2 separate regions of the Homo sapiens genome follow, and region 2 is linked to region 1. Evidence: fine-mapped expression QTL. A gene starts in region 1. The other region holds a variant in brackets. All regions are shown on one strand. Distances are from middle to middle.

What was found. PIP is the estimated chance that this variant, and not a neighbour inherited with it, causes the effect.
Region 2: its variant is fine-mapped to the expression of TINF2 in whole blood (TOPMed, PIP above 0.99).

The regions. Positions count from the first base shown.
Region 1 is chr14:24,240,494-24,245,832 of GRCh38, reverse strand. It overlaps TINF2 (TERF1 interacting nuclear factor 2), which reads left to right and starts at 3,210. Exons shown (of 9, transcript NM_001099274.3): 1 at 3,210-3,692; 2 at 3,839-3,943; 3 at 4,057-4,158; 4 at 4,522-4,629; 5 at 4,717-4,813; 6 at 4,958-5,339. The coding sequence starts at 3,501. RefSeq lists a silencer at 2,276-2,570 and enhancers at 2,762-3,061, 3,232-3,491, 3,562-3,781, 4,442-4,971.
Region 2 is chr14:24,195,236-24,200,601 of GRCh38, reverse strand. TM9SF1 (transmembrane 9 superfamily member 1) reads left to right here and starts at 5,161. Exons shown (of 6, transcript NM_006405.7): 1 at 5,161-5,256. RefSeq lists enhancers at 1-245, 4,263-4,502, 4,753-4,812, 4,882-5,366 and silencers at 5,013-5,072, 5,213-5,366. The variant T/C (reference allele first, on the strand shown) is at 2,602.

The sequences.
Region 1 (5,339 bases):
GCTGGATTACAGCTCACTGCAACCTCAACCTCCTGGGCTCAGGCAATCTTTCCACATCAGCCTCCTGAGTAACTGGGGCTACAGGTGTGCACATCTATGCCTGGCTAGTTTTTCAATTTTTTTTGTAGAGACGGGGGTCTCGCCATTTTGCCCAGGTTGGTCTCAAACTCCTGGGCTCAAGCAATCCACCTGCCTCGGACTCCCAAGAAGTCAGCTACACAGAGATAGCAGCTGAAAATGAGTAATTCAGCTGGGCACGGTGGCTCACGCCTGTAATCCTAGCACTTTGGGAGGCCAAGGCAGGTGGATCGCTTGAGGTCAGGAGTTCGAGACCAGCCTGGGCAACATGGCAAAACCCCATCTCTACTAAAACAAAAATTAGCCGGGCGTGGTGGTGTACGACCTGTAGTACCACCTACTTGGGAGGCTGAGGCACCAGAATCGCTTGAACTTGGGAGACACAGGTTGCAGTGAGCTGATATTGAGCCACTGCATTCCAGCCTGAGCAACAAAGCAAGACATTGTCTCAAAAAACAAAAAAAACCCACTGTAACAGAAATGATGAATGTCTGTGATGGGCTCATCAATAGACTGGACATGGCCAAAGAACATGGTGCGCTTGAAGAAATGTCAACAGAAATTTCCAAAGCTGAAATGCAATGAGAAAAAAAAATGAAAAAGAACAGAATATCCAAGAATTGTAGGACAATTATAGAAGCTGTAGCATACACATAATCAGAATGGCAGAGAAGAAAATAAAGGAACATAAGAAATGTGGCAATAATGACTGAGAATTTCCCCCAAATTAATGACAGACACAAAACACAGATCCAGGAAGCTCAGAGAGCAGCAAGCAGGATAAATACAAAAAACAAAAAATGAAGATAGACTGGGCTGGGCAACACAGAGAGACACCCCTTCTCTACAAAACATATTTTTCTTTTTTTTTTTTTTTGTAGAGTCAGGGTCTCACTGTATTGCCCAGGCTGGTCTCAAACTCCTGGCCTCAAGTGATCCTCCCACTTCAGCCTCCCAAAGTTCTGGGATTACAGGCATGAGCCACCACACCCACCAAAAAAGATTTTTTAAAAAATTAGCCAGGGACTGCGTGCAGTGGCTCACGCCTGCGATCCCAACACTTTCGGAAGCCGAGGTGGGAAGATCGCTTGAGTCCAGGAATTCGAGACCAGCCTGGGCAACAAAGACTTGTCTCTACAAAAAATAGAAAAAAATGAGCCAGGCATGGTGGTGCATGCCTGTAGCCCCAGTTACTTTGGAGGCTGAGGCAGGAGGATCACTTAAGCCCAGGAGGCAGAGGTTGCAGTGAGCCAAGATCACTGCACTCCACCCTGAGCAACAGAGCGAGACTGTCTCCCCACCTCAAAAAAAAAAAAAGAGCCGAGCGCGGTGGCTCACGCCTTGTAATCCCAGCACTTTGGGAGGCCGAGGCGAGCGGATCACGAGGTCAGGAGATCCAGACCACGGTGAAACCCCGTCTCTACTAAAAATACAAAAAAGCCGGGCGCGGTGGTGGGCGCCTGTAGTCCCAGCTACTCGGGAGGCTGAGGCAGGAGAATGGCGTGAACCCAGGAGGCGGAGCTTGCAGTGAGCTGAGATCGCGCCACTGCACTTCAGCCTGGGCGACAGAGCGAGACTCCGTCTCAAAAAAAAAAAAAAGTAAAACAACAGAAGTTCATATCTACATAAGAAAGAAAGAACATTAGAGAAGGAATAAATAAAGGGAAAAAGGAAGATAACTAGAATTTCACACATATCCAATTTGGGGTACTTTGGGACTGGGTGTTTCTTGGGCAGTCGAATGTGCGGATCAGCTGAGACTGATCCGGGGCGGAGACAAGGATGTGTGAACCATTATCTCTGGGAATGGAAGACATGGGCTAAAGACGGAGCAGTTTCACTAAATCCTTGTAAGGTGGTCAAGGCAGGCAACTAATCCAGCCAACAATTAAGGAGTGTAAGCTGTGTGTTAGGTTCTGTGCTTGCTGATGGAAATGAGAGGCACCAGGAAGCCTGTGGAAGAGACAGTCAAGGAGAGCAGTCAATTACATTAGGGGGCTGACAAGTTCAGTGCACAACAGAATCCTAAAACAAGAAACTAATTTGTGTGTGTGTGTGAGACCCCGTCTCACTCTATCACTCAGGCTGGAGTGCAGTCACTGAAGCCTCAACCTCCCTGGCTCAAACAATCCTCCCAACTCAGCCTCCTGAGTAGCTGGGACTACAGGCGTGCCACTACGCCCGGCTAGTTTTTTTGATTTTCAGTAGAGACAGGTTATCGCCATGTGATCCAGTCTGGTCTGGAACTCCTGGGCTCAAGCGGATCGATCCTCCCCTCTCGGCCTCTCAGAGTGCTGGGATTACAGGTGTGAGTCACCGTGCCCCCAGCCTGTATTCTATTTCTTCTTCTTCCTCTTTTTTTTTTTTTTTTTTTCTTTGAGAGAGATTCTCCCTCTGTCGCCCAGGCTGGAATGCAGAGGCAAGATCGCGGCTCACTGCCACCTCCCGTCTACTGGGTTCAAGCGATTCTCCTGCCTCGGCCTCCCGAGTAGCTGGGATTACAGGCGCCTGCCACCACGCCCAGCTAATTTTTGTACTTTTAGCAGAGAAGGGGTTTCACCATGTCGCCCAGGCTTGTCTGGAGCTCCTGGGCTCAAGTGACCCTCCTGCCTCGGCCTCTCAAAGCGCTGGGATTAGACACAAGCCACCACGCCCAGCCTGTATTTTATTTTTTAAGGGCGGGCGCCCTCTTCTGTTTTATAAAAGGAACAGTCGAATTCCTACTGGAAGCGACGCGCGCAGAGGGGAAGGCTTTGTAGACGCCGGCTCGGGTCTGGAATTTAAAGAACTAAATTTCGATGGGTGAAGACAGTGGGAAAGGGCGGTGGCATGATCCTCGTTTTACAGACTAGGAAGTCGAGCCTCACGGGAGTGACGGGGCTTCTCCGCAGGCTCCGCGAAGAAAGCAAGGCTGGGAGGACCCAGACGAACGGCCACAACAGCCTCAGCGGCCACGACAGCCTCAGCCGCCAACTCATGTCAGCCGGCAGAGAGTGCAGGAAGCGGGCAGCTACAGCTCCGCTGGGGCGTGGCCTTCTGACGCACCGTCACGGTTCCCTCTGTGGCCGCCCATTGGCTCCCTCTTACCGCCCTTTTCCGGGGCAAGGGAAGCTAGTAGCGGAGCCGGAAGTGAGGCACCCTCGGGCTCGAGACAGCGGCGACGTTTAAAGCTGAGCGACCCAGTGCCACTGGAGACGGTCAGCTTCTCCACTCAGGCTCCTCCAGCCCGAGCCAGAAGACCCCCTCCCCCAGAATTCTGGGGGCCGATGGAAGGGAGCCGAGTCAGATCGCGAGGTACCCAGAGCCGACAGACCGGAGCGACAGGGAGTTGCCAGAAGCCCCGCCCCTAGGAGTGATCGGAAAGCCTCACCCATCCGGGTGAGGAACCCGGAGGGACCGCCTCCGGGCGGAGCCCGCCGACCATGGCTACGCCCCTGGTGGCGGGTCCCGCAGCTCTACGCTTCGCCGCCGCGGCTAGCTGGCAGGTTGTGCGCGGACGCTGCGTGGAACATTTTCCGCGAGTACTGGAGTTTCTGCGATCTCTGCGCGCTGTTGCCCCTGGCTTGGTTCGCTACCGGCACCACGAACGCCTTTGTATGGGCCTAAAGGCCAAGGTATTGGAGCAAGTAGGACCTGGAAGGGGAAAGAAAGAAAGGGGCGGGATGCGAGCACCTGACAAGGGCCCACAGCTTGGGGATGAGACTAGTTGGAAAAGGTCAGCTTGCCCCGAAGTGGGGATTCTGAATTCAGTACCGTACAGGTGGTGGTGGAGCTGATCCTGCAGGGCCGGCCTTGGGCCCAAGTCCTGAAAGCCCTGAATCACCACTTTCCAGAATCTGGACCTATAGTGCGGGATCCCAAGGCTGTGAGTAATCCCCGGAACAAGCCCTGACCCCAGTTACACTTGGTGCAGCAAAGTTGCTCCTCCTGTCTACTGGATGTTGGTGCTAACTTCTCTGTCTTCTGTATCCTCAACAGACAAAGCAGGATCTGAGGAAGATTTTGGAGGCACAGGAAACTTTTTACCAGCAGGTGAAGCAGCTGTCAGAGGCTCCTGTGGATTTGGCCTCGAAGCTGCAGGTGAGACTGGTTTGAAGGCTATTATGTGGCTATTTTCTCTAACCCATTTTTTTTTTTTTTTGAGGAATCTTGCTCTGTCGCCCAGGCTGGAGTGCAGTGGCACAATCTCGGCTCACTGCAACCTCTGCCTCCCGGGTTCAAGCGATTCTCCTGCCTCAGCCTCCCGAGTAGCTGGGATTACAAATGCCCAGCTAATTTTTGTATTTTAGTAGAGATGGGGTTTCACCATGTTGGCCAGGCTGGTCTCGAACTCCTGACCTCAAGTGATCCGCCCACCTCGGCCTCCCAAATGGCCAGGATTACAGGCGTGAGCCACCGTGCCTGGCCACTAACCCACTTTTGACCTAATCTCCCCTGCTGTAGGAACTTGAACAAGAGTATGGGGAACCCTTTCTGGCTGCCATGGAAAAGCTGCTTTTTGAGTACTTGTGTCAGCTGGAGAAAGCACTGCCTACACCGCAGGCACAGCAGGTTTCGCTGGGGCAAAACATGTAAGGGCAGAGTGTGGGGTGGCTGTTTCAAGGATTGTGGTCTTCATACCTCTGTCCCTGCCCACAGCTTCAGGATGTGCTGAGTTGGATGCAGCCTGGAGTCTCTATCACCTCTTCTCTTGCCTGGAGACAATATGGTGTGGACATGGGGTGGCTGCTTCCAGGTACTAGGAATTTGGAGGTGTAGTGTTTAGCCTGAGACCTTTTGAGGCAGTCCACTGGAATAGTTCCATGGGCTCCGGGCATAAGAAACCAGTTATTCTGTTACTATCTGTTCTCTTTATAAGGGGCCTCATTTTCTTTTTCAGAGTGCTCTGTTACTGACTCAGTGAACCTGGCTGAGCCCATGGAACAGAATCCTCCTCAGCAACAAAGACTAGCACTCCACAATCCCCTGCCAAAAGCCAAGCCTGGCACACATCTTCCTCAGGGACCATCTTCAAGGACGCACCCAGAACCTCTAGCTGGCCGACACTTCAATCTGGCCCCTCTAGGCCGACGAAGAGTTCAGTCCCAATGGGCCTCCACTAGGGGAGGCCATAAGGAGCGCCCCACAGTCATGCTGTTTCCCTTTAGGAATCTCGGCTCACCAACCCAGGTCATATCTAAGCCTGAGAGCAAGGAAGAACATGCGATATACACAGCAGACCTAGCCATGGGCACAAGAGCAGCCTCCACTGGGAAGTCTAA
Region 2 (5,366 bases), 45 kb after region 1:
CGCTCCAGCCTGGGCGACAGAGACTCTGTCTCAAAAAAAAAAAAAAAAAAAAAAAAAAAAAAACCAAAAAAACAAAAAAGATTTTGTGTGGTGGGTATTAGGCCGTTCTTGCATTGCTATAAAGAAATACCAGGCCGGGCGTGGTGGCTCATGCCTGTAATCCCAGCATTTTGGGAGGCTGAAGCGGGCAGATCAGGAGGTCAGGAGATCGAGACCAGCCTGGCCAACATAGTGAAACCCGTCTCTACTAAAGACACAAAAATTAGCTGGGCGTGGTGGTGCATGCCTGTAATCCCAGGTACTCGGGAGGCTGAGGCAGGAGAATCACTTGAACCACGGAGTCGGAGGTTTCAGTGAGCCGAGATCGCACCACTGCACTCCAGCCTGGTGACAGAGCAACACTCTGTCTCAAAAAAAAAAAAGAAAGAAATACCTGAGGCCGTGTACAGTGGCTCATGCCTGTAATCCTGACAGTTTGGGAAGCCAAGGCAGGTGGATTACCTGAGCCCAGGAGTTCAAGACCAGCTTGGGCAACATAGCAAAAACCCATTTCTACGAAAAATACCAATATTAGCTAGGTGTGGTGGCATGTGCCTATAGTCTCAGCTACTCAGAAGGATCACTTGAGCCTGGGAGGTGAAGGCTGCAGTGAACCAAGATGGCACCACTGCACTCCAGCCTGGGTGACAAAGTGAGACCCTGTCTCAAAAACAAAAACAAACAAAAACATGAGACTGGGTAGTTTGTAAAGAAAAGAGGTTTAGGCCGGGTGCAGTGGCTCACGCCTGTAATCCCAACACTCTGGGAGGCCAAATTAGGCAGGCGGATCACAAGGTCAAGAGATCAAGACCATCCTGGCCAACATGGTGAAACCACATCTCTACTAAAAATACAAAAATTAGCTGGGCATGGTGGTGTGTGGCTGTAGTCCCAGCTACTCTGGAGGCTGAGGCAGGAGAATCACTTGAACCTGGGAGGGGGAGGTTGCAGTGAGCCAAGATCACACCACTGCACTCTAGCCTGGCGACAGAGCAAGACTCCGTCTCAAAAAAAAAAAAAAAAAAAAAGAAAAGAAAAGAAAAGAGGTTTAATTGGCTCACCGTTCTGCAGGCTGTATAGGAAGCATGGTGCTGGCTCAGCTTCTGGGGAGGCCTCAGGAAGCTTATAATCAAAACGGAAGGTGAAGGGGAAGCAGGGACATCACGTGGTGAGAATGGGAGTGAGAGAGAGAGAGTTGTGGTGGAGGTGCCACACGCTTTTAAACAACCAGATCTTGTGAGAACTCATAGGGTAAATACTACACCAAACCATGAGGGGTCCGCCCCCATGATCCAAAAACCTCCCACCAGGACCCACCTACAGCATTGGGGATTACATTTCAACATGAGATTTGGGCAGGGATAACTATCCAAACTATATCAGTGGGGGACAGAGGGGCAGAGAAAAGAACAAGGGAAGAATCCAAATTCTCATATCTTCCATCCTCCAAAACAGAATACTTCAAGAACAGATTATGCCACAGGCATGCAATAAATTCCCATTTATTGACAGTCTGACCTTGCTGGCAGGATGGTTCCAAAGTTCTGTTGGAAGCCAGCTCTATATCCTCAATCTAGCAAGATGAGCAGTTTTCCAGGGCACACCATGGTAAGGGGGCCCACCCAATCCTGCCCATCTGATCCCACAGGCTGGCCCCCGGATAGGTAACTTGGTGGCAACTCTAGTCTCTCATCATGTACAGGGGGTAAACCAGTTCATGCGAAGATCATGTATTAAGCTGCCTAACATATACAAAAACACTGCTAGGTCCTGAGGAAACAGAGATGAATAAATTACAGTCTTCCTCTGAGGAGTTTGAAATTAGCAAGGGAGACAGACACATAAGAAGTAAAATAACACTACAGTGAGATATGCTATAAACAAACCTGGGAGGAGATGTAAGGGAAGGCTTTATAGAGAAGGTGACATTTGCACTGTTCAAAAAAAAAGGATAAGGCCAGGTGCAGTGGCTCATGCCTGTAATCCCAGCACTTTGGGAGGTCAAGGCGGGCGGATCACGAAGTCAGGAGTTCGAGACCAGCCTGGCCAATATGGTGAAACCCCATCTCTACTAAAAAATACAAAAATTAGCCGGGCATGGTGGTGCGCACCTGTAGTCCCAGCTACTCGGGAGGCTGGGGCAGGAGAATCGCTTGAACTCGGAGGTGGAGGTTGCAGTGAACTGAGATCACACCACTACACTCCAGCCTGGTTGACAGTGAGACTGTCTCAAAAAAAAAAAAAAAAAAAAAAAAAGGCCAGGCACGGTGGCTCACACTTGTAATCCCAGCACTTTGGGAGGCCAAGGCGGGCAGATCATGAGGTTGGGAGATCGAGACCATCCTGGCTAACACTGTGAAACCCCGTCTCTACTGAAAATACAAAAACAAAAATTAGCCGGGCGTGGTGGCAGGCACCTGTAGTCCCAGCTACTCGGGAGGCTGAGGCGGGAGAATGGCGTGAACCTGGGAGGCGGAGCTTGCAGTGAGCAGAGATCACGCCACTGCACTCCGGCCTGGGCAACAGAGCGAGACTCTGTCTCAAAAAAAAAAAAAAAAAAGA[T/C]AAGTAGGGAATAGGAGATTGGGTGGTTTAGGCAGGAGGAACAATATGAGGCTTGCCGGCTTGAGAGAATATGATATTCAGTATTTCTATTTGAATACAGAATAGGGTTCCAGAAGGGGAATGTACCTTGAGAAGTAATTAGGATCCAGGTCTGAGCAGTCTCATATGCCAGGCTATTTTGACTCTACCTTGTATGCTCATATAATCTGGGTATACATCAAAATCAGTGCTTATTTTTTTGAGACAGAGTTTGGTTCTTGTTGCCCAGGCTGGAGTGCAATGGTGCAGTCTCAGCTCACTGCAACCTCCGCCTCCTGGGTTCAAGCGATTACCCTGCCTCAGCCTCCCAAGTGGCTGGGGTTATAGCCATGAGCCACCATGCCCGGCTAATTTTTTTTGTATTTTTAGTAGAGACGGGGTTTCACCATGTTGGACAGGCTGGTCTTGAACTCCCGACCTCAGGTAATCCACCTCGGCCTCCCAAAGTGCTGGGATTACAGGAGTGAGCCACTACGCCCGGCCTCAGTGCTTGCTTTTTTTAAAAAAAAAAAAATGCTGATGACCAGGCACCCCCTCCCCTGAGAATCCTGATTTTAAAAAAGAAACTTTCCAGTAGCAGTGTGAAAAATGACCCAGGGGGAAGGTGACTAGGAGACTAGCAAGGTGGCTCTCATGGTAGTTTAGGTGAGAGAAGATGGAGCCTGAACCAAAGAGGTGGAGGCAAGCATCTGGAAGATATTCAGGAAATAAGTGGAGAGGGCTTGGTGACACTGATATCTGAGCGGGAAGATAGAGAGAAAGAGGCCCAAGTTTCTGGCTTTAGAGACCAGGTGGTTGTCAGTTAGAGATTATTTCTAAGCCACTCTCAGTTCTTGTTCTTTTTTCTTTTTCTTTTTCTTTTTTTTTTTTTTTTTGAGATGGAGTCCCGCTCTGTTGCCCAGGCTGGAGTGCAATGGCCTGATCTCGGTTCACTGCAACCTCCGCTTCCCAGGTTCAAGCTATTCTCCTGCCTCAGCCTCACAAGTGGCTGGGGTTACAGGCGCCCGCCACCAGGCCCAGCTAATTTTTTTGTATTTTTAGTAGAGACAGGGTTTCGCCATGTTAGGCTGGTCTCGAACTCCCGACCTCGGGTGATCTGCCCGCCTTGGCCTCCCAAAGTGCTGGTATTACAGGCGTGAGCCCACCGCGCCCGACCTCAGTTCTTTTTCTAATTAGAAAATTCACTGATTGTCTAACAAAACTCCACCATCTGCTTCTTTGAACCTCACCTATATCTGCAGGGAAAGAACTGGGTCAGAAAGGGCAGTAATTGTAGAAGCAGGTAAATTAAGGGCTTTTCAGGCCAGAAGTCACTTGTGATTTTTCCACTGTGCTTCTTCCCCTGGGGAGAGAGAAGCTTAAGTCCACTTCCTTACACGTTGCTCCCAGGTGGCAAAACAGAAGTCACTGCTCAAAGGTCCGATTTTCAAGGGGAACTCCCTAGACGGCAGATCCCCTTTAAAACAGCTGAGACAAACACAAGGGTAAACTTTTTCAAAATAATCTGCCATACAAAGTGAAGAGAAGCCCAAAGACATACACAGTGATAAATAAGAACAAAAACATAGACTAACGGACCTCGAGATACTTTACCGTCAATTAACAATAACCATGTTAGGCTGCCCAACTCACAGAGTCAAAGGACAGACCTCTCTCCTTGCGCGCCTCTGCGCCAAACCGGGTTTCGGCTTGCTTATCGTGGGCTCTGAACGGTCACTGTGCGGCCAGGGAAGTCTCCAGCACAGCCTCGGGAAGACATTCCTATTACATATTTATCACTTTGGCGCTGGCCATTCGTGACAGGTGGGAGACGAGTGAGGTGAGATTCAGATGTTGGGACCCTTGCATGGGACAGATGCCCAAAGCTTCGCCCCTTCCCCGGTTTGGGGGCCACGAACCGCCTCTCAGGGCTCAGCCTCAGCAGCAGGTGGTTCAGCCGGAAAGTGCTTCGAACCCAGACGCCGCCTGCGCTCCATCTCCCCGGCCCTCGCTAGTCCCGTCCCGCGGGGACAGCTCTCGGGCCTCGGCCAGCGCGAGCCTCCTGGCCAAGAGCTCTCAAACCCCAAATCTTTCCAGGAGCAAGCGAGCGGCCTAGCAGCCACTCCTCTCCCGAAGGGGTGTCAGGGTCCTCGCTGCCAGGCCTCAGCCCCCTCCCCGGGAAGCCGTCGCGAAGGAGTCCCCAGGGGCCGCAGCAGCGAAGGCCCTCTGCGTTCCAGGCAAGGAGCTTTCCGCCAGGCTGAGGTCGCCGCCGGTGAGGGCGGAAGTGGTAAGACTGACGTGTCCTGGGCCGCGCTGCCGATCGCCGGGAGGACCCCCGCCTCGCCGAAGACGGGCGGGGCAAGCCGAGCCTCACGGGGTCCCCGGAGCTGGGCCGGGCCTCCAGATGGAGAAGGCGCAACGGGGAGTTCTTGAGTAAGCCAGAGCGGTGTCCAGCGCGGTGTAGCCGCAGCCGCCGCTGTCAGGCGCAGCAACGGGCAACCCCGTAGAAGTCGGTCGGCAGGTCCTCTCCAACCCGCCGCTACCGCGCCGCTGTGGGAGAGACCCCAGCAGGAGCCCAAAGGCAGCTACGGGGGCGCGAAGGCCGCTGGCGCCGCCTCGGCCAGCCCTTCCCGCGCGGTGAGGACCCCGGGGCTGTGGCGGGAAGGGACCCGAGGTGCGAGACCGAGCGGCGTTGCCATGGAAACGGGCCAGGGCGCGTAGTAGAGGCCCCGGGCCAGACGGGCTGC